Regions from separate parts of the Homo sapiens genome. Here all the other regions are linked to region 3. The links come from fine-mapping of genetic effects on gene expression. A gene starts in region 3. Each other region holds a variant in brackets. All regions are shown on one strand. Distances are from middle to middle.

Region 1 (4,129 bases), 250 kb before region 3:
CTCTCCAATCCTCCCTCTCAGAGGGCAGCTCTACCGTAGATCCCTAGAGGTGCCAACTGTCCTGTCCTTGCTTCTACTCATGTTCCAGTTCATGGTTCCAGAGATATACACAAATCGGTATGGTGTCTGCAGCAGATGGTGACTGAGGAACATTCTGCAACATTAAATGATTCATACTACTGTCACATTCATAGATAGGTGGATATAGACATCATATGCATATAACATGACACTAATCTTTTACATGGGCAACCAAAGGACTATTGAACACTAGAATTGCAAGGAGTTGCTATTAAAACTGTAATAAGGTATTTATTTTTCAAAAGTAACTAAAAACTTCACCTGTATTATTATAATTTGATGTTAATCGTTGAAATGTATTAATTATAACGTATACTTTTGAGCAAATTATGTTAAACAATTTGAAAGAAAAATAACTTTTTGAAAACATACATGGAAAAGAAATAACTTTAATGTCTTGAATTAAAATATTTTTAAATTTATATTTTAATGAAAATGTATTCAAATTTTGTATATCTTGAATACAATTGTATTTGATATTTTAATCCTTTAGATCTTTACTGTTACCAGAACCCAAATTCTGTGGAAATCTTAAGTATAACAATATAATTTGTTATGTTGCTAAAATGATGACAAGAAAATTAAGTTTCACGTGGAATGAATATACGATAATACATAAGTTATGTGTCTTTATTGCTCATCCAAACATCACTGGCTCCTTCAACAACACAAGAGTTCCAACATGGAGGAGTCTTCTATCAAGGTAGATACTTAACAAATGTTCACTGAGTGAGTGAGTGAATGTGGGTGAGTTTACATGGCGGTAAAGCCAGATAGTGCAGGTCCTTGATCACTGGTCAGACTTTAGCCAGGATGTGATCAGCATAGAGACTCCTCTTGCGCAGGGGAAAGATGCTATTAGAGCAATGTAAGGGAGATTAATCGAACATTTGGATGCAAGAGAGGCTGGAATTAGGAGAAATCAAAAGTAATATAACTATGCACTTTTGCTTTCACTTTTAACTTTTATGTTTTCACTTCTTTTTTTTTTTTTTTTTTTTTTTTGACAGAGTCTTGCTCTGTCGCCCAGGCTGGAGTACAGTGGCGGGATACGGGCTCACTGCAGCCTCCACTTCCCAGGTTCAAGCAATTTTCCTGCCTCAGCTTCCAGAGTAGCTGAGATCACAGGCATGCGCCACCACTCCCAGCTAAATTTTTTTGTAGTTTTAGTAGAGATGGGGTTTCATCATGTTGGCCAGGCTGGTTTCAAACTCCTGAGCTCAAGTGATCCTCCCACCTCGGCCTCCCAAAGGCCAGGGATTACAGGCGTGAGCCACCGTGCCTGGCCTGTTTTCACTCTTTTTAAGCTGTGCTTCTTTTTTCTTTTGAGCCATGGGCAGGAATGCCCTGACCTCTCAGGTGCAGGTGTGCAGTACTGCCCTCTGGAAGGAAGGCCTCTGTAAGTACTGCCCTCTGGAAGGAAGGCCTCTGTAAGTACTGCCCTCTGGAAGGAAGGCCTCTCTGTAAGTACTGCCCTCTGTAAGGAAGGCCTCTGTAAGTACTGCCCTCTGGAAGGAAGACTACTCCA[G/C]CTGTTGGGGGTGGCTTGGTACTGGGGAAGATCATGGACTTGGAGTTTCTCAGGCCTCATTTGAGTCCCAGCACCACCACTTCATTTACGGGGATTCTTAGGCTCCCATCTTAACTTCTCTGGACCTCAATTATTTCACCTGTAAAATAGAGACAAGGCTACCTCCCTCACGAGGTGGTTGTGACATGAGAAACGGTGTGCAAAGCATAGTTAGTGACTAGGAAATAGTGGGTGGTCAATAAATAGCAGCTGCTACGTTCCTTCAGGCTCCAGAGCCTGCACGCTGCGTGCAGATCCCATACTCCAGACCCCTGCCGCAGAAGGGTGGGCCAGGAAGCAGCAGCTTTGCCTTAACCATAGCGAGAAGCTTGTCAGAAGTGCAGGGTCTTGGCCATTTCCCCCAGGCCAACGAATCAGGGACTGCATTTCAGCAAGCTCCCAGGTGACTGGTGCACAAGATGGAGTCAGAGAAGCATCTAGAGCACTAGTTTCTAGTCCTGACCACACATTCAAATAACCTAAGGAGCTTTAAATAACCAGTGCCCCAGCCCCACCCCAGACATATTCATTCAGAATCCCAAAGAATGGTGTGAGCCTGGGCTTTATTCAAAAGCTCCCCAGGTGACTTTACTGTCCAGCCACAGTTGAGCCCCACTGGCTGCATCAAAATACATGAAGCCTCAGGACATGGTCTCATTATGGCTTTGGTGGACTCTAGGCACCTTTGCCTCCAGGAGTCCCTTCCTATGTAAAATAATATTAAAAATTAGTTTACTATGTCTTGGTATAAAGAGAAATATGTTAATACTATATAGTAAGATATTTTCTTTAACGTTTCCTTTTTAAAATTTTTTTTATTATACTTTAAGTTCTGGGATACCTGTGCAGAACGTGCAGGTTTGTTACATAGGTATACACGTGCCATGGTGGTTTGCTGCACCCATCAACCTGTCATCTATATTAGGTATTTCTCCTAATGCTATCCCTCCCCTAACCCCCAACCCCCCAACAGGCTCCAGTGTGTGATGTTCCCCTCCCTGTGTCCACGTGTTCTCACTGTTCAACTCCCACTTAGAAGTGAGAACATGCGATGTTTGCTTTTATGTTCTTGTGTTAGTTTGCTGAGAATGATGGTTTCCAGCTTCATCCATGTCCCTGCAAAGGACACGAACTCATCCTTTTTTATAGCTGCATAGTATTCCATGGTGTATGTGCCACATTTTCTTTCTCCAGTCTATGATTGATGGGCATTTGGGCTGATTCCAAGTCTTTGCTATTGTGAACAGTGCTGCAATAAACATACGTGTGCATGTGTCTTTATAGTAGAATGATTTATAATGCTTTGGGTATATACCCAGTAATGGGATAGCTGAGTCAAATGGCATTTCTGGTTCTAGATCCTTGAGGAATCGCCACACTGTCTTCCACAATGGTTGAACTTATTTATACTCCCACCGACAGTGTAAAAGCGTTCTTATTTCTCCACATCCTCTCCAGCATCTGTTGTTTCCTTTTTTTAATCTTCTGATTCAAAACACAAGCATTAACACATTTCATAGGTCCCTGAAAGTGTGCAGGCCTGAGGCATTGAGCCCCTGGATATGTTGGCCCTGCTTTGGGATATTATATAAAGGTAAGGGTGGAAAACATAGTTAATGAGAGAAGAGAGTTCTTCATGGAGCTGTAAAGCTGATGGCTCACAGAAAACCTGATCCAAGGAAGAAGAGGGAGGAGGAGAAGAGGAAGAAGAAAAGGAGATAGCAAAAAAGAAAGGAGGAAGGGAAGGGAGGAAGGAAGGTCCAGATTTTAATAAAATTCTAACCTAATGGAGGAAGTGCTGGGCGGGGTGGTCAAGAAACACAAACACCTGCATCTGTACAGCTATGATGAGGAGTTAATGCAAACAATGTCTACTGCACACCTCTATCCACTCATCCATTCTTTTAATCACTCGTTCTTTTGTTTCTCCAGTTCACAACAGAACCCCACACATATGCAAAACCCTAGCAATTTAAAGATGCAGAAACTATCATCCCTTCCTTCTATGGGCCAAACACTTGAGTCAGGCAACCCCATCCATGCCTGGTTTATTTCATTACTTTCTCAAGAATGTTAATGCAAGATTGCTGGGATGACCACACTTAATTAAAGCAACATGACCAAGAAGAAATCCCCAGGAACCACGTGGAAGTGCAGCGAAAGCTTCAGATATTCCCCCTGTAATTATAAGTTGTGTGGCCTGACAGCTGCTCCCAAGAGAGGCTTTTTGTAAATTATTTTTATTATTATTTTTTTAGAAATCTGGCATGAAAGGATTGGTTATAAAGGCGAATCCTTGCTGGTAGAAATCTTGAGTGGACTGTCTCCACCCCGTAGCTGTCCAGACATAGAGAAGAGGTTGAAAAGAGAGCAGAGAACTAAACAGAGACCACCCCACATAATGGAAGTCAAAACCAGTGGAAATAAAAATTTGCCTTTTCATGAGCACTTTGTTAGAAGAGGAAGTGAAGAGAAAAGTAG
Region 2 (4,129 bases), 270 kb before region 3:
GTCCCCAGAATGTCTCGCACACGATGGCCGACACACACGTCTGATCATGTCCATGTCCTGGTGAGAGCCACCCTGGCCCTCCATGGCTTTCCAGATAAGGCCTGTGCTGCGGTCGGCACCTGAGGCCCTCCCGGTCTCTCCTGCTTTTCTAGCCAGGCCTCCATAAATGTCGGCCTCACATTTAGTAAAGCATGATGGGTTCTCCATGAATAACTAGAATGGATGAATGAATGAACCTGCCACTTGGTGCCCTGAAAGAACCATTCCTCTGGCCATTCTGAACTATTAATATTTCCAATTCCCTCAACGTGGCACCCTTGAAGACAGGCCTGTGCCTGCTGCATACCCAGGCTAGCTGGCTCCCTGCTGGATTGTCTGCTTCCCAGGCCCTTCCCAGGTGGAGATGGTGGCCCTCGGTGCCTTCACGGTGCTTCAGATCTGTCTCCCCACTTGGGAAGTTATTCCCTCGGCATCAGCTTATTGCTGGTCTTCCCACTAATCTCAGAGTTTCCTAAAGTCAGGAATGACGTCATATTTGTCTAGGAGTCTCTGAGCACTGCCCGGTCTAACACCACGTTCTGTTAATGATTTATTAACCTGCGAAGGAATGGGCCACATGCCAATTGTGTCATACAAACAACACAAGCGAAGACATCAGTGTGGCATCTGTCTTTTTCCTTTTGGCTTTATTTCCATAGGGCTTTCCAGTACATGCCCCATTCTGTCTTATGAGAAGAGAATGGACCTTGAGGGCTTTTTTTCCCCTTCCTTTTTCTGCCAGACGCACTTCCTGCTGCATTGAGAGACTTTTGGAAGGTTCGCCTTTCCCTCAAATTTCTCATGATGTTGAAGAACTATAATCGCCACTGAATGGTCCAGTTTAGCACAGAGAAAGCCAACCAACATTCACCAGCAGACTTTAAATGCTGACAGTTGAAACAGCCAAGAAAAGTTCATTAAGTGCTAAGCAAGAAAAAGAGCAAGAAAATGAGACAGAATCGCTCCCTGGGGCATTGCAAAAGCAGGCCTTTGTGAGGAAACATTCCTGAAGGAATCTGGGGAAATGACATTGTAAAACTGCAACAGACGGCAGGATAGGACAACAGGCTCCCAAATAACTGCATGGCACCACACCAATGCTCCTTGTGGAGGGAGAGCACATCACAGAGCCCCTTGAGAGGCAGGCTGGAGAAGGCTGCCCCAGCACACCCGAACATCAAGGCGTTTTCAAACTTCTCAATTTTCTTTTCTTTTCTTTTTGTTTTGTTTTGTTTTGGAGACACAGTCTCTCTCTGTCACCCAGGGTGCAGTGCAGTGGTGCCATCTCAGCTCACTGCAATCTGCCTCCCGGGTTCAAGCAATTCTCATGCCTCAGCCTCCCAAGTAGCTGGGACTACAGGCACACCACCACACTCAGCTAATTTTTGTATTATTAGTAGAGACAGAGTTTCACCATGTTGCCCAGGTTGGTCTCGAACTCCTGGCTTCAAGCGATCCACCCGCCTCAGCCTCCCAAAATACTGGAATTATAGGTGTGAGCCCCCGCATCCAGCCTAAACTGTTTCTTTAAAGACCATTTGTACTCCCCTTGCCTCAGCACCAAAGGGAATGAGAATTCAGGGAAGCATGCCTCCCCCCTCTCAGTTTGCAGTTGAAAACTGGTCAAGAGGAACCAGGTACATTTGGGTTTTTTCTAAAGAAGCCAAGGATAAAAACCATGGCCACTATACCATGGACAGCTTTGAAATGAACAGAATTGTTTTCACACACAGGACCAGCCAGAGGTAAATGTGCCTCTTCAAAAAATGTGGTGTCAATGCAATGTGCAGAAACTGTCAGGGGTGGGGGAAGGGGACTCTAAGTAGGATGGTCATATCCTGTATTGTCCACACAAGGTCATTTTTGAGAGCAGAAGGAGAAGTTACTACTTACAACACCTGGACAATTCGTTGCAAACCAGCGCTACCCAGGCAAATAAGTGAGTCTGGCCACCTCACCCTGAGTAACGTACTCTGTGAACAAATTGCTGAGGTGAGGAGAAAGAATATCTGGGTTGTAGAGGCAAACACATACTTTTAAAAAAATAAATAAAGAGGCTCTCTCTGGACTTAGTACTTTGACTTTTTCCTGATGCAGTTACAGTCCAAATCACATAGGCATTTCTTATCAGCAAAAGCAGCCAATAAAATACAGAAGGACCGTGAGAGAGATGGGCCAGAGCTCTTGTGAAAGTCTTTCAACACAC[TG/T]GCGGGCTTCTGCCAACAGGAAAACATTTAGCAAGAGGTGTGCAAGCTATTTGTAGATACAACCCGATCATTCAAAGGTAACTATGATCTGGCACACAACAGCATGTACCCTTTAAAAATAAGCCCATAAAAGTGAAGCTTTGCTTCACATGTCTAAGTGTTTCTGCATTATATATATGATGAATATATATATATATATATTCCAATCAGGTGATTTTGAAAAAGTGAGAAACAGATATATTACCTGGGCACTGGAAATGCCCAGGTTCCTCAGACTTCAGAACTGGCTGAGCCCACAGCACTGCCCTTGCCGGCTACTTCAGGGACAGGTGATTTGAGGCAAGCCTTCTTCAAGTCTGCACCCCAAAAAAATCACCTGGAAAAATCTGAAGTCAGGATAACTACAGTTAAAAAAAAAAAAAAAAAAGCCCAGCAGATAGTGCGAACAAACAGACAAACAACAAAAATCAAGAGTGTTGTCTTGCAGCAGGTTCTTCTGTTCAGTGGCCAAAATTTTACTCCTGGATCCTTCATTTTAAAAATTAATAAATATGGCCAGGCGTGGTGGTTCATGTCTGTAATTCCAACACTTTGGAAAGCTGAGTGTGTGGATCTCTTGAGCTCAGGAGTTCAAGACCAGCCTGGGTGACATGGTGAAAGCCCATCTCTACAAAAAATTCGAAAGTAGCCAGGCATGGTGGCATGCACCTGCCTGGCTACCCAGCTACTCAGGAGGCTGAGGTGGGAGGATCAATTGAGCCCAGGAGGTCCAGGCTACATTAAGCCATGATCACATCACTGCACTCCAGCCTGGGTGACAGGGGGAGACCCTGCCTCAAAAAAATAAAAATAGACCTAAGTCCTCTTGACTCATCCTCAAATGCAAACCTAAAGGAGAAAGGGGGCTTCCCGCCCACCTCAGATCTCCACTTCTGTGCAGCCACCTCGCAGTGATGCTCCTGGTGCTGGAACATAATGAGGGGTCATGAGGAAGACATTGTCAAAATCCTCAGAGAGGGAAGAAGGAGTGGCTGCCTCCCAGCACAGAGGCCAAGTTGCAAGTTGACGCAGCCTAGCTGCGAGGCAGCCACACAGGCACACGGCACTGGGTGGGAACAGTTGGCCCTCTGGGCTCAGCACACCTACTGGTCTTGAGCAAGTCCTTCATCCTCTGGAGACAAGCTGTGACTTGGCTCATCTCAGATGGAGACGATGCACAAAGAGCAGGTTGCTGAGCACTCAGTGCCAGACAAGCCCACCAATTTTTAACATTGTGTTAAAAACTGTGTATTCTGTGTGTTCTGGGTGTGTGACCCACAAAGAAAATGGAAGCTCCTGGAATTCTGCTTTCTGTTGACTGTCCTCACAAAGTCTATTCACCCCGAAACACTGCCTGCACCACTTCCCTTTCCCCAAGCATAGTTCACGTTTTGGCAGACTAAACCTGTTCGTGTGAACTAAGGTAAAATTTCATTAACTTGGAATCGGCTGATTTGGAATCGTTCACACTAGGCTGAAGTTTAACTTTACACCCAGCAATCCTTTTCTTCTTTCACACAGCAATTTAAGTGTATAAACAGTATGTGGAGGGGGAAGTATCAAAATGCATCAGAGAATACATTGTTTCAACACATCCAAAGCACTCACTCACAAATAATTGTTACAGGAAATAAGTCATCGTTAAATATTCGTAATTGTAGCTCCCTAAGGACTCCTAATAGGCGACATTTCTATCTTAGTTTTGTTACTGTAGCTCATTCAATTCCTCTACTATTCAGACTGGTGTTTCCCTAAATTCTCCCAAATGAGTGTCATCTTACTCCATTTGAAATGAAAAGGGTCCTATGTCTAATAAACGTTAACTTTACAGTGCTTCATTTAGT
Region 3 (4,096 bases):
GTCAAAACAAAATCTGTTCCACTGTGGCACGTATGTGACAGAAACACATGCACACAAAGTACATCAAAAGGCTCGAACTGTGGGAGGACTCGGATAGTAAATCACTTCCAGACTTAATATCAGAAGAGATACGGTGCATCCAACGCTGTCAGGGACAGAGTCGCAGGCAGCATTGCCTGGCCTGGGGAAGGCCCTCCGCAAACTTCTGGCTGGACAGGAAACAGTTTACCTCCTTCCTCCAAACTGAGGGGGCTGAATTTCAGGAAGGTGAGCTCCACCTCAGTGCCACCCACTCTGCCTCCCTGGAGAGGCGTCATGGGGCGCATAGCTGTCACGTGACGGTCAGAGACTGCTGGCCCCACCAGCTGAGAAATTAATCATTAATTGAAGGAAAAAACACTGTTTCCCCATTATCGAGCTTTTCTTTCAGCTTCTAGGCCTGCCCCTTCCGCTTTCTGAAATGCAAAGGAGGTAGAGATTGAGGCAGAAAGTAAATAAGATTTGAATATTGCCTTTCCTGGAGTTTTCTAGTTCATTGTTTTCTGGAGCAAATATTTTCAAAAACAAGAAACTGACACACTGTGGTCAAAACAGAATTCTAGATAAGCTACAATTATGTGAAAATTAAGGTATTTAAGTAAATAGCTGCAAACTTTTTAAAACTTAGACTGAAAGAACGAGTTCTTAAAAGATTTTCAGCCAAAAAAAAAAAAAAAAACCTTGAACCCGTATTCAGTACTAGTGCTGAAAAGATTCCAAACCTCATATGACAGAATATTTTTTTTTCCTTAGTGTGAAGATGTCTATCAATGGCTAGGGCCACCTATCTGTCACAAAGCTTTGGAACTCCTCTAGGTGTTGGAATGTGACACCAGAAATCACAATTAGTGCATAATTAATCACATTACTTTGCCACCTACACGGAAGGGCACAGACCGGCAGCCTTTCAAGGGCAGTGTATGTAAATGTAGTTTCAATATGCAAATTCTCCTAATTATTTCCGATTAATACGATCATTATAATAGCCCTGCCTCCTTCTTGAAAAGGAACCCTGAAAGCGCCCTGCCTGTGAGAGCTCCTTAGCGACCGGTGAGGTTGGGCATGGTTTGCAATAAGTACTCATTTTCTTGAGTTTACAGTAATGCCTCCCGCGCTGCTCCGGGTTGCAAAAGCCCACACTAAGCCTGTCGTCGAATGCGTGCGTGGGTGGTTTGTTTGTGTTAACATAACTTTTCCTTATCTGAAGAGACGAACTCACTCTACAAACGTGACTCTTCAGTGACAACCTAATTTGCGTTTTCACTTTCTTCTGAAATGCTTTCTATCTTTCCTCACGCTCTCCCTCCGATGGGTTGCAGTGAACTGTGGCTTCCCCCCTGCGGTGCTGAACTCGCCCGTGTAGCTGTGATTTTAGAGCTGCCGACAGCTCTAAGGTGTGTAGGGCTTGGTCTGGGAACACCCCCAGGGCAAGGGTCCCGCCGCGCGCTTGGAATTAGAATTAAGAATGCATATTTAGGCGCCCAGGGTCTGCCCCCTTCTCCCTCCTCCTTCCCCTCCCCCTTCCCCTCCCCCTTCCCCTCCCCCATCTTCCCTTCTCTTCCTCCTCCCTCCTCCTCTCCCTCCTCCCGCCTCCCTCCTCCCCGCCCCCCGCCCGCCGCTCCCCGCCCCCCGCCCCCCGCCAGCCCCGCACTTACTGTACTGTACTCTATTTACCACCCCAGCTGGGCTCGCGCCCCGCCCACCCCGCGGGGATTGGCTGCGAACGCGGAAGAACCAAGCCCACGCCCCGCGCCCGCGCCCACCAATGGAAGCGCCCGCTCGTCTTGATAGACGTGCCACCTTCCGCCAATGGGGACGAAGGGAAGCTCCAGCGTGTGGCCCCGGCGAGTGCGGATAAAAGCCGCCCCGCCGGGCTCGGGCTTCATTCTGAGCCGAGCCCGGTGCCAAGCGCAGCTAGCTCAGCAGGCGGCAGCGGCGGCCTGAGCTTCAGGGCAGCCAGCTCCCTCCCGGTCTCGCCTTCCCTCGCGGTCAGCATGAAAGCCTTCAGTCCCGTGAGGTCCGTTAGGAAAAACAGCCTGTCGGACCACAGCCTGGGCATCTCCCGGAGCAAAACCCCTGTGGACGACCCGATGAGCCTGCTATACAACATGAACGACTGCTACTCCAAGCTCAAGGAGCTGGTGCCCAGCATCCCCCAGAACAAGAAGGTGAGCAAGATGGAAATCCTGCAGCACGTCATCGACTACATCTTGGACCTGCAGATCGCCCTGGACTCGCATCCCACTATTGTCAGCCTGCATCACCAGAGACCCGGGCAGAACCAGGCGTCCAGGACGCCGCTGACCACCCTCAACACGGATATCAGCATCCTGTCCTTGCAGGTAAGACCTGCTCCGGGGTCCCCGCCCCGCCGCCGCACACTCCCGCGGTCGTCTGGGCTGTCACTAGGAGATCCGTAGCCCAGACGGTGACTTTCGTATGAGCTATTTAACTTTATTTTCTTCAGAATCTGCTGTAGATTGAGCTGTGCGTGAAATTGCTAGTAAGTTCTGACATGTTAATGCGTCTGTCTTTAAATCTGAATTGTTACCATAAACGTGTTTAATGGAACTTGCTGGTCTGTGGACTACAAAAAAAAAAAAAAAAAAAAAAAAACCCTTTCTACTTAACATTGTCTTAACCTCGTACTCTTTATCCTCTTTCTTTCCAGGCTTCTGAATTCCCTTCTGAGTTAATGTCAAATGACAGCAAAGCACTGTGTGGCTGAATAAGCGGTGAGTGTTTGCTTGTGCCACCCGTGGGTAAACTGCCCCTCGGTGTGTGTGCGCGCGCGCGCATGTGTTTTTGCTTGTGTATCTATAAAATGTCTGATTTGGTAAATGCATGCTTACTTCGCGGTGTTACCCGTACTACATTGTCTCACTAGACATGAAGGAGCTTGTAGCTTTGGGTGCTCGAGATCACAGAACATTTTCCTTTAAAAGGAAATGATGCCAATAACTTACTACGAAGGCGGCCGAGGAACGTGTGTATTGGCTTTGTAGCAAATGTAATGCCCTGGATCTTCCTACGAGTCCTCTGGTACTATGAGGTACTAACCTCCACTGTAATTAATCTTACCGCCACAAATTCCATAGTGATCCTCCTTCCCTAAAACTATAGTCCTCTGGGATTCTCTGGGCTAGTTGAGGATTGCTACCCTGTGCCTTCAACCCTGTGATGTGGGATCCCAGACTTCCCTATCTGTTAACTAAAGGGCTGTTTTCAATCAAATAATTGTTACGAGAAGCAGACTGGCGCCTGTAGCACTGCTGTTGGAGATCCAAATAGGAGATTGGGTTGGGAAGTTTTTCCCTTGAGTCTCTGCTATTTTAATGTTTAATTTGCGCTGTCGAGGCGAGTGTGTGTGTTGCATCTGGACGCCAGGGTTTGCCCAATCTTTGAGTGTTTGGTTAAATGTTCAAACTGTGGCTTCCTCCCGGCGCCAGTCGCCCGCCTCTGCCCTTAGGTTACATTCTCTTAAACATGCCTTTCTCCCCCACTCTTTCGCAGGTGTTCATGATTTCTTTTATTCTTTGCACAACAACAACAACAACAAATTCACGGAATCTTTTAAGTGCTGAACTTATTTTTCAACCATTTCACAAGGAGGACAAGTTGAATGGACCTTTTTAAAAAGAAAAAAAAAATGGAAGGAAAACTAAGAATGATCATCTTCCCAGGGTGTTCTCTTACTTGGACTGTGATATTCGTTATTTATGAAAAAGACTTTTAAATGCCCTTTCTGCAGTTGGAAGGTTTTCTTTATATACTATTCCCACCATGGGGAGCGAAAACGTTAAAATCACAAGGAATTGCCCAATCTAAGCAGACTTTGCCTTTTTTCAAAGGTGGAGCGTGAATACCAGAAGGATCCAGTATTCAGTCACTTAAATGAAGTCTTTTGGTCAGAAATTACCTTTTTGACACAAGCCTACTGAATGCTGTGTATATATTTATATATAAATATATCTATTTGAGTGAAACCTTGTGAACTCTTTAATTAGAGTTTTCTTGTATAGTGGCAGAGATGTCTATTTCTGCATTCAAAAGTGTA
Region 4 (4,129 bases), 240 kb before region 3:
ACAGCTGGTAAGTAAGCATATAACATCACGCGTCACTAGGGAATTCCAAATTAAAACAATGAGATACCCGTCGTAATAGGTAATAACAATAATGTCCACTATTAGAATGGTGCAGATCTAAAGCTGAAGGGTCAAGAAATAGAGAAGCATATTACTTAAAGTTTACAGATAGATTTCACAATAAATATAATCAGCAAGAATCAACATATGAAAGAGAGATGGTAGAGTACGGAAGGGCCCTACACTCTTTATCTTTCCTAGTGAGGAGTTAATATACACTTTCCAAAGCTGATTGATCAAGAATAAGGTAAAAATAATTTGAGATGAAGTTATGATGATAATGTCTAAAACAATTGAAAGCAAAAGTACTTATCTTTGGGGCATGGGTGTCCAAGAATGGGGAGATGTCTAGAAAGAGACTTATTTTGTATCCTTCTGTGCTGCTTGGATTTTTTTTAATAGTGTGCATGTAGTGTTTTTATAATTTAAAAAGCAATTTTTAATCATCAGTAATTTTTCTGTTAGGGAAGAAAACAGCTGAAGCATGAAGTTTATGGAAATTTTTTCTAGAAGCTTAATAGATGTCAATAACAAAGCATTGCTGAAAATAATGAATTTTTGAATTATGAAATGTCTTTAAGTTTTTCTCAAATTGCAAATCTCCCTGAGGGTGTTCCTCCAAGTCCTACTTATCAGACATACTACTAAGTTTAAATTATAAAATTCTTACCTGTAATTGAAGCCAGCTGCAACCTTTTTGACAAGGACTAATTGCCGATAATGATTTAAGTGCTGCAAATTCACATGCCACAATTGTTTTAAATAGGGGAACCTCTCACAGCTTTCTCTGAAAAGAACTGTTAATCTTTGCTGCTGACTTATCAAATCCTTCAGTCACCTGTTTGCCATCATTTTCACGAGCTGATAACGTGTTTATTCGAGTCCTAATGTGCAGGTGGAGGAATAAAGGTCTCATTTGATGGCACTGGAATTTCATCTAACATTTCCACATGGAAAGAGCTGGCACAAGCCTCAGGTTTGGCTTAGCAGAGAAAGACAATAAAGGCATGTATTTTTTTTTTAATTTGAAGCAAATGAAAAGTGAGCATTTATTTAATGTCAATAACTTTAGATGACAGAGCTGGGTAAAAGCCATGACCTGTAATGTCCCTTTAGCCTGCTGCAAATCAAGGATCCCTGGTGCTGAACAACAGCCAGGGGGCTGCTACTGGGGATGGCTCCTCCTCGCCCCGCCTCCCTGTCTCCTTTCACTGCATCTGATCTTTTCTTCTCTTCCTCAGCATTGTATCAGTTCCCCTTGGCTGCTCATTGCTGGTTTTGGAGGCACTAAATTGTTACAACCTCTGCTTGTTGGGTAAGGAGGAGTTTGGCAGCATATATTCAAAAGTTAACACAACCTTTCTCTTTGCAATTCTACCACTAAGGATTTATCTAAAGAAAATAATGGATCGGCCTGGCTCGGTGGCTCACTACTGTAATCCCAGCACTTTGGGAGGCCGAGGTGGGCTGATCACCTGAGGTCGGGAGTTCGAGACCAGCCTGACCAACAAGGAGAAACCCTGTCTCTACTAAAAATACAAAATTAGCCAGGCATGGTGGTACATGCCTGTAATCCCAGCTATTCAGGAGGCTGAGGCAGGAGAATTGCTTGAAACCGGGAGGTGGAAGTTGCAGTGAGCTGAGATCGTGCCATTGCACTCCAGCCTGGACAACAAGAGCAAAACTCTGTCTCAAAAAAAAAAAGAAAAAGAAAATAAGAATGGATCATGTGCAAATTTCTAGCTGCAATGATTTCAATTAGAGTATTTTTTATAATGCTGGGACACTGGGAACAATCTAAAGGGTCAGCCATAGGGGGCTGGTCTGATGCCTGAGAGCTCAGACACGGGAAGGATGTGCATCCACTCAGGATATCTGGGCTCCATGGCCTGGAAAACTGTTGCCAGAAAGGGGTCCCAATCCAGACCCCAAGAGAGGGGGATCTCGTGTAAGAAAAAATTTGAGGCGAGTCCATAAAGTAAAGCAAACGCAAGTTTATTTAAAAAGTAAAGGAATAAAAGAAGGGTGGGATATGTAAGGGAACTCCATAGGCAGAGCAGCCCGAGGGCTGCTGGTTGCCCATTTTTATGGTTATTTCTTGATGATATGCTAAACAAGGGGTGGATTATTCATGCCTCCCCTTTTTGGACCAGATAGGGTAACTTCCTGACATTGCCACGGCATTTGTAAACTGTCATGGCGCTGGTGGGAGTGTAGCAGTGAGGACGACCAGAGATCACTCTCATCACCATCTTGGTTTTGGTGCGTTTTGGCCAGCTTCTTTACTGCAACTTGTTTTATCAGCAAGGTCTTTGTGACCTGTATCTTGTGCCAAATTCCTATCTCATCCTGTGACTTAGAATG[C/A]CTTAACCTTCTGGGAATGCAGCCCAGTATGTCTCAGCCACATTTTACCCAGCTCCTATTCAAGATGGAGTTGCTCTGGTTCAAACACCTCTGACACTTACAAAGGTATGACCTTTAGCCAATTGCTTAAGCACTGTCAGGCTCAAATTCCTCCTCTGTCAAATGGGAACAACAGCACCTAGCTCACCTGATCACTGGGGAATTAAAAGGTCTCAGGAACACAAAACACTCCACATAGTGCCTGGTCTGTTGTCAATATTTGATAAATGCCACTTAATGATAATAGTGATTATAATAAGGCTAGCAGTAATATTAAACCATAACAATCATGTTGAAGGGGAAGATGGACTGAGGGAAAGAAATATCCCTGTGGGAATTCAAGTCAGGAAACAAAAAAGTAGCTGTTCTTGAGCTCGTTCAAGTAATACATGCAAAATAAAAGACAAATTATCAAAGTAAAAGGTTAATGGGGATTATTCCTGAGTGGTAGAATTATGCTGATTTTCTTTTCTTTTGGATTCTCTGTATGTAAAACTTTCTACAAAGAAAGTATTTTACTTTACTAATTAAGAGATAATTTTTTTTTTTAATTCCTCCCTTAGGTGACCGCAGTTCACAGAATTTCAGAACCGGAAGACACTTTAAGTACCATCTACTCCAACCTCATCACTCTACTGATGAAGAACCAGAGCATCCAGAATGGAGTGCTGTCCCCACTGGATCCTGCAGGGAAGGACCCCCAGAGCCCAGGGGTCCCCACAGCCTCACAATGTAATTGGAATTAGACTCAAGGCACAGTCATCTGGGCATCTCCAAGGACTAGATCTTGGTTCTCTCCTTTTATCCCAGATATGTGTCATAGTGCCTGGCACATGGTAGGATGGCAGTAAATATTTGTTGAATGAATACACATATGAATATGAGTCACTTGTGCTCCCATAAGCGTTAGAAGACAAGCAAACAGCTCTGAAAGCAGCAGTTAGTCTCCTGGGGGTATCTGAGAAAGCTTCCTAGGAAGGAAATAGCAAAATCAGGTCCCAGAAGGTGAGTTCAAGTGAGTTCTGTCAGAAGCGTCTGAACCAGAGTGACTCCATCTTGAATACAGGCTGGGTAAAGTGAGGCTGAGACCTGCTGGGCTGCATTCCCAGAAGGTTAGGCATTCTAAGTCACAGGATGAGACAGAAGGGTGGCACAAGACACAAGTCACAAAGACCCCACTGATAAAACAGGATGTGGTAAAGAAGCTGGCCGAAACCCACCAAAACCAAGACAGTCATCCTCAATGCTCATTATATGCCATTATAAAGCATCGCATGCTAAAAGACACTCCCACCAGTGCCATGACCATTTACAAATGCCATGGCAATGTCTGGAAGTTACCCTACATGGTCCAAAGGGAAGAGGAACCCTCAGTTTCAGGAAATCCCCACCACTTTCCAGGAAAACTCACCAACAATCCATTGTTTCCCATATGATCAAGAAATAACTATTAAAATCGCCAACCAGCAGCCCTCAGGGCTACTCTGTCTAGGGTACTCCATTCTTTTATTTCTTTGCTTCTCTGATAAACTGCTTTCACTTTACTCTGTGGACTTGCCCCAAATTATTTCTTGCATAGGATCCAAGAACCCTCTCTTGGGGTCTAGATCAGGACCCCTTTCCGGTAACAGTTCCAGACCAAGCAAACAGCCATGGAATGAAAACA
Region 5 (4,100 bases), 380 kb before region 3:
TCACTGCAGCTAGCGGGGAGACCTGGGCAGAGCACCCCAATGGTCACTGCAGCCGAAAGAGGACTGCTTGTCTTTCTGCTCTCACACCCCTTACCTAGGGAAGAGCAGAGAAAGGGTTGCTTGAATGGGAGGAATAGCAAAGAGAACAAAGAAATCCCAATGAGGGGAAACCTCTCAGCGCACCAGCCTCACTGTGTGCTGAGAGGCACCCACTGCCTTCCCTGCACTCCTTAGATCTTGTTCATGGGTGGTTGTTTGTTGTTGTTGTTGTTGTTGTTGTTGTTGCTGTTTTTAATGTAAGAAACAGAATCTTGCTGTGTTGACCAGGCTGGTCTCAAACTCCTGGCCTCAAGCGATCCTCCCCCCTCAGCCTCCCAAAGCACTGTGATTACAGGCGTGAGCCACTGCATCCAGTCTCATTCATCTTTTTGTACCATATTCTCTGTCCCACCACTCAGAAATATCTCAGGTGCTGTACTAGTGCCTTACACATCCTGGACCCTCAGTGCTGTCTCAAACTCCTGGCCTCAAGCAATACTCCCCACTCAGCCTCCCAAAGCACTGTGATTACAGGCGTGAGCCACTGCATCCAGCCTCATTCATCTTTTTGTACCACATTCTCTGCCCCACCACTCAAAAATATCTCAGGTGCTGTGCTAGTGCCTTACACATCCTGGACCCTCAATGCATAGCATGGTAGCACCAAAAGGTGTGAAATACAGAAATGAAATCATTAAGTGAGTCATTCATACCCATCATGGTTATTTATACGGTAATTTATATGGTCAAGCTTGACCGTCTTGGAGGGCTGCTGTCATCACAAAGCAGAACAAGGCCCACCAGGACACCCTGACCTCGTGCAGTGAGCCGGCCCTCAGGCTTGCACAACAACAACCCCCAAACACTGGCATGTTCCCAGCTGAGCCAACATGCACCAGACCCACCCAAACGTGGCCACATCGGAGCCATCTAGAAACCGATTTGAACACTGCTTCTTGTGGTGAGGGACAGGAAACCAAGAGGACACAGGGGGCCGTGTCGAGGTTAACAGGGAGGGCTGCAAGCCCAGATCTCTGGTTTCTGTTCCTCTCCAGCGTTCATCCTCTCCTACTGTTGTTAAAAATCAAATGTAAGATGCAGAGAGCCAGTCCAGGCTGTCCAGAGGACAGGGCTGAGCCTCGCTCCCCACTCCATTCCCAGGGCCTAGCACAGGGCCTGGCACAGAGGCCATATCACAAGTCAAGAAGGAAATCTTTCCTTTCTGCCAACCCTGGATCTTCCCAGAGAGGAGCCCTGTGTCCTCTTGAGGGCAGGATGGGTGGTCAAGGCAGGGACGCGGTAAAAACTAAGGTCGTACACCAGCAAGCTATCGACAAGCATTTAGAAAGCTGTGTCTCAACCAAGATAGTTATTGCAGCTTTATTTGTGTTATCAATAGTCAAAAAAAGGGGGGGGGGAAGACAACTTACTCTGAGCCCTAGGGTGCCTTGTCATAGGAGGTTCTGGGGGTAGGTACACAGTTACTATTTATCCCATGAATAAAAGGGTGGATGGAAATAGGCCAGGAGTTGGGGAACTTCACACAACAAAATCCAAACTGAATGATGGTGAGCCAAAACACAAAAATAACACAAAAGACCCCAAATTGTTACTGTATTTAGAAATAAGACCCAAATTATTATAAAAAATTGTCAGATTGCTACAAGGCAATTTTTTGGGTGCTATAAAAGGCCTCTGGCCCAGGGGCCTAACAGCCTCCTAAAAGAGGATATCAGGAAAAGCAAGTCGCTAAATAGAAGAAAATAAAAGAAAAGGAACTCGTCAGTCAAACTGCATCCTGCCTAGCAGGGAATCCACACACTCAGGGAATCTCAGATCCCAGGACTTCAGACTGAGATGGACTCGGTGTCTCTGGCCAATGAGAACCAAAGTCCTTCACACATCATGCTCCCTGAGACAAGAAAACGTAGGTATGCTTTAGGGGAAGAACAAAAACAGACAAGGGCAGTGGGAGTTTTGATTAGCATAATCTTTACAAATCCTTGCTTTGGAATTCCAGCTTGGCCACCTACTACATCATTTGGGCAAGTTTCTTAACCTCCCAGAACCTCAGTGTCCTCATCTGTAAAATGGCAATTATGAGAACGCTACCTACTTCATCACAGTGGCGTAAAGACTTACTAAGATAATTCCCGTTAAGTGCTTAGCACGTCGCCCTCCAAGCAGTCTGTTATTTTTCTGATGTGTCAATGTCACCATTCACCTGCTGTGCAGTTTTGAGCAGATGATGAACGCATGTGTCCTCCAGGAGCTCCTTCTGCGACATCCCCTAGGC[A/T]GCCCGACATGACTCAGCAACACGGTGCTAGGGCCAGATCCCTGGCTAGACACCGAGGTGTGGGGCCCTCGTCTCTGACCTGCCATTGAGCCACAGTGTGAAGCCTAAGCAAAGCCATTTCTCTAGGGACCTTGGCTTAGTTTTCTGGTAAAATACAAGTTTCATTCTAGGTGTTCTCTCAGCTATCTTCTAGGATGTTTTGGAGTCTGTGCTTTCATACAAACACAGGCTCATGCTGGAGCAGGGATGGCCATGGACATCCTTAACTCTCCTAAGAGCCACCCACGGCCTCCCAAGTCACCTCATCAGTTGTCCTCACAGGGAGCCACCCTCTGGGAGTATTTATATCCCTCTACTTTGATTACAGCTGATTAGTAAATTTACAATGTGTTTGAATTTCACTAGACTTACATTTCACAACAGAGAGCAAGGTTTAGTCAACACTTTCATTTGCTAAGGGCAACCATCCAGGCTTAATAAGGCTTTCCCTAAACAGACACCTTCTTTACAAACTTCTAGGAAGCCAAGTGTTAAACAAAAGTCTAACTTGAGACTTTTCTCTTGATTCCTATTATGGGCATTTGCAGTTTGCTTTGCAATTGCATTACCAAGTGCACACTTGCGCACATGCCTGGAAACGTGCACACACGCACAATGGAGCAACGTCCCAGTGTGACGGTTCCTGCTGGCCAAGAACAGCACTGGGTATTTGCATGGGCAAAGACTTTAACAGCGTGAACAGGATTTTCTGAACAAGTCTGGAAATAAAATACCTACCAGCTTTCAGAGTAAATTACCAAAAAAGCAAAGGAGAAAAACAGTTCTTCCAAAAGACAGTCATCTAACCTCCTTACTCCCTGTGCACAAATTACCAGGCTTCCCAGAATCCAATCTTAGGTGAGATGAGGAACAATGGAAGGTATTTACAAGTTTAAAAAATATCAAATTTTTGCTTCTGGACTCCCATGCTATGATGTCACTACCTTGTTGCACTGGTCTGAGAAAAAGAATTATATCTCTATGGGCCTCAGTTTCCCTGTATGTGAAATGAGAGTTTCAATTAAGCACTATCTCAGATCCTTTCTGCCTTCAAAATCATGGGAAATCTCTGTAACAGATTTTTTAACCCATGAGAGGCCTTAGGGTCACTATGAGTATCTGATAAACAGGTGGGCCTTCCCTCCAGAAATATAGACAAAGGCTCATAAACACAGAGAAGTTTACACAGAATGTGAAAGAGGATTCAGAGAACCCCTGAAGCCTGTCCCGGAGGATGGGTTTAAAACTCTCAACTCTGGAGGAGATGTTGAAAGACAATTTCTCCAAAAGAGAGGGAGAAGATACAGTAGCTAGGGAAGTCTGGAAATCTGAATTTTTAATTTAGAAATAGATATTGTGGTTTTGTTGTGAGCTTTGAAAAATTGAGCCATGATTCTGTATAACGCCTCTAAGACAAAGATAAGATGTTAAAGCAGGTTCGTGACCATGGTCAGCTATGGAAGCGGTACACAAGGCCAGTTAGCAGGGTGGAGTCAGGTTCTGAGAGATGAGGTGGTATGGGAATGTCTGGGGCTGTGGGTAATAAGTTGAGCTTTTTCCCAGATGTTCTCTCCATGTTCCAGAGAAGGTAGAAAGCTGGCTACCGACCAAATCTGATTTTGACATTCCTGTAAGATAGTGCCAAGCACTCAGATCTCATCAGCCCCGTGTCAGAGGCAGCAAGGCACCACACCATGGTTGGATAACCCCACATTCAATCCATTTT

Alleles and levels. Alleles are on the strand shown, and positions count from the first base shown. SD is a standard deviation of normalised expression in the study named. Not every link is listed here.
For the expression in adrenal gland of the gene that starts at base 1,924 in region 3, allele A in region 4 goes with a higher level than allele C (small effect, 0.30 SD a copy in GTEx).

Evidence for each region.
Region 1: its variant is fine-mapped to the expression of ID2 in whole blood (TOPMed, PIP above 0.99).
Region 2: its variant is fine-mapped to the expression of ID2 in whole blood (TOPMed, PIP above 0.99).
Region 4: its variant is fine-mapped to the expression of ID2 in adrenal gland (GTEx, PIP 0.94).
Region 5: its variant is fine-mapped to the expression of ID2 in whole blood (INTERVAL, PIP above 0.99).

Annotation. Positions count from the first base shown.
Region 1 is chr2:8,432,056-8,436,184 of GRCh38, forward strand. No RefSeq gene overlaps it. Among named protein-coding and RNA genes, the nearest start is that of LINC00299, 110 kb to the left of the region's middle. The variant G/C (reference allele first, on the strand shown) is at 1,610.
Region 2 is chr2:8,411,785-8,415,913 of GRCh38, forward strand. No RefSeq gene overlaps it. Among named protein-coding and RNA genes, the nearest start is that of LINC00299, 85 kb to the left of the region's middle. The variant TG/T (reference allele first, on the strand shown) is at 2,246.
Region 3 is chr2:8,680,133-8,684,228 of GRCh38, forward strand. ID2 (inhibitor of DNA binding 2) reads left to right here and starts at 1,924. Exons shown (of 3, transcript NM_002166.5): 1 at 1,924-2,381; 2 at 2,711-2,774; 3 at 3,553-4,096. The coding sequence starts at 2,034. The coding sequence ends at 2,767. ID2-AS1 (ID2 antisense RNA 1) reads right to left here and starts at 1,731. Exons shown (of 4, transcript NR_110154.1): 1 at 1,695-1,731. RefSeq lists enhancers at 1,123-1,626, 2,114-2,163.
Region 4 is chr2:8,444,498-8,448,626 of GRCh38, forward strand. No RefSeq gene overlaps it. Among named protein-coding and RNA genes, the nearest start is that of LINC00299, 120 kb to the left of the region's middle. RefSeq lists an enhancer at 2,603-3,802. The variant C/A (reference allele first, on the strand shown) is at 2,425.
Region 5 is chr2:8,302,695-8,306,794 of GRCh38, forward strand. The region is part of intron 2 of LINC00299 (long intergenic non-protein coding RNA 299); the gene reads right to left. Among named protein-coding and RNA genes, the nearest start is that of LINC00299, 24 kb to the right of the region's middle. RefSeq lists an enhancer at 1,184-1,403. The variant A/T (reference allele first, on the strand shown) is at 2,336.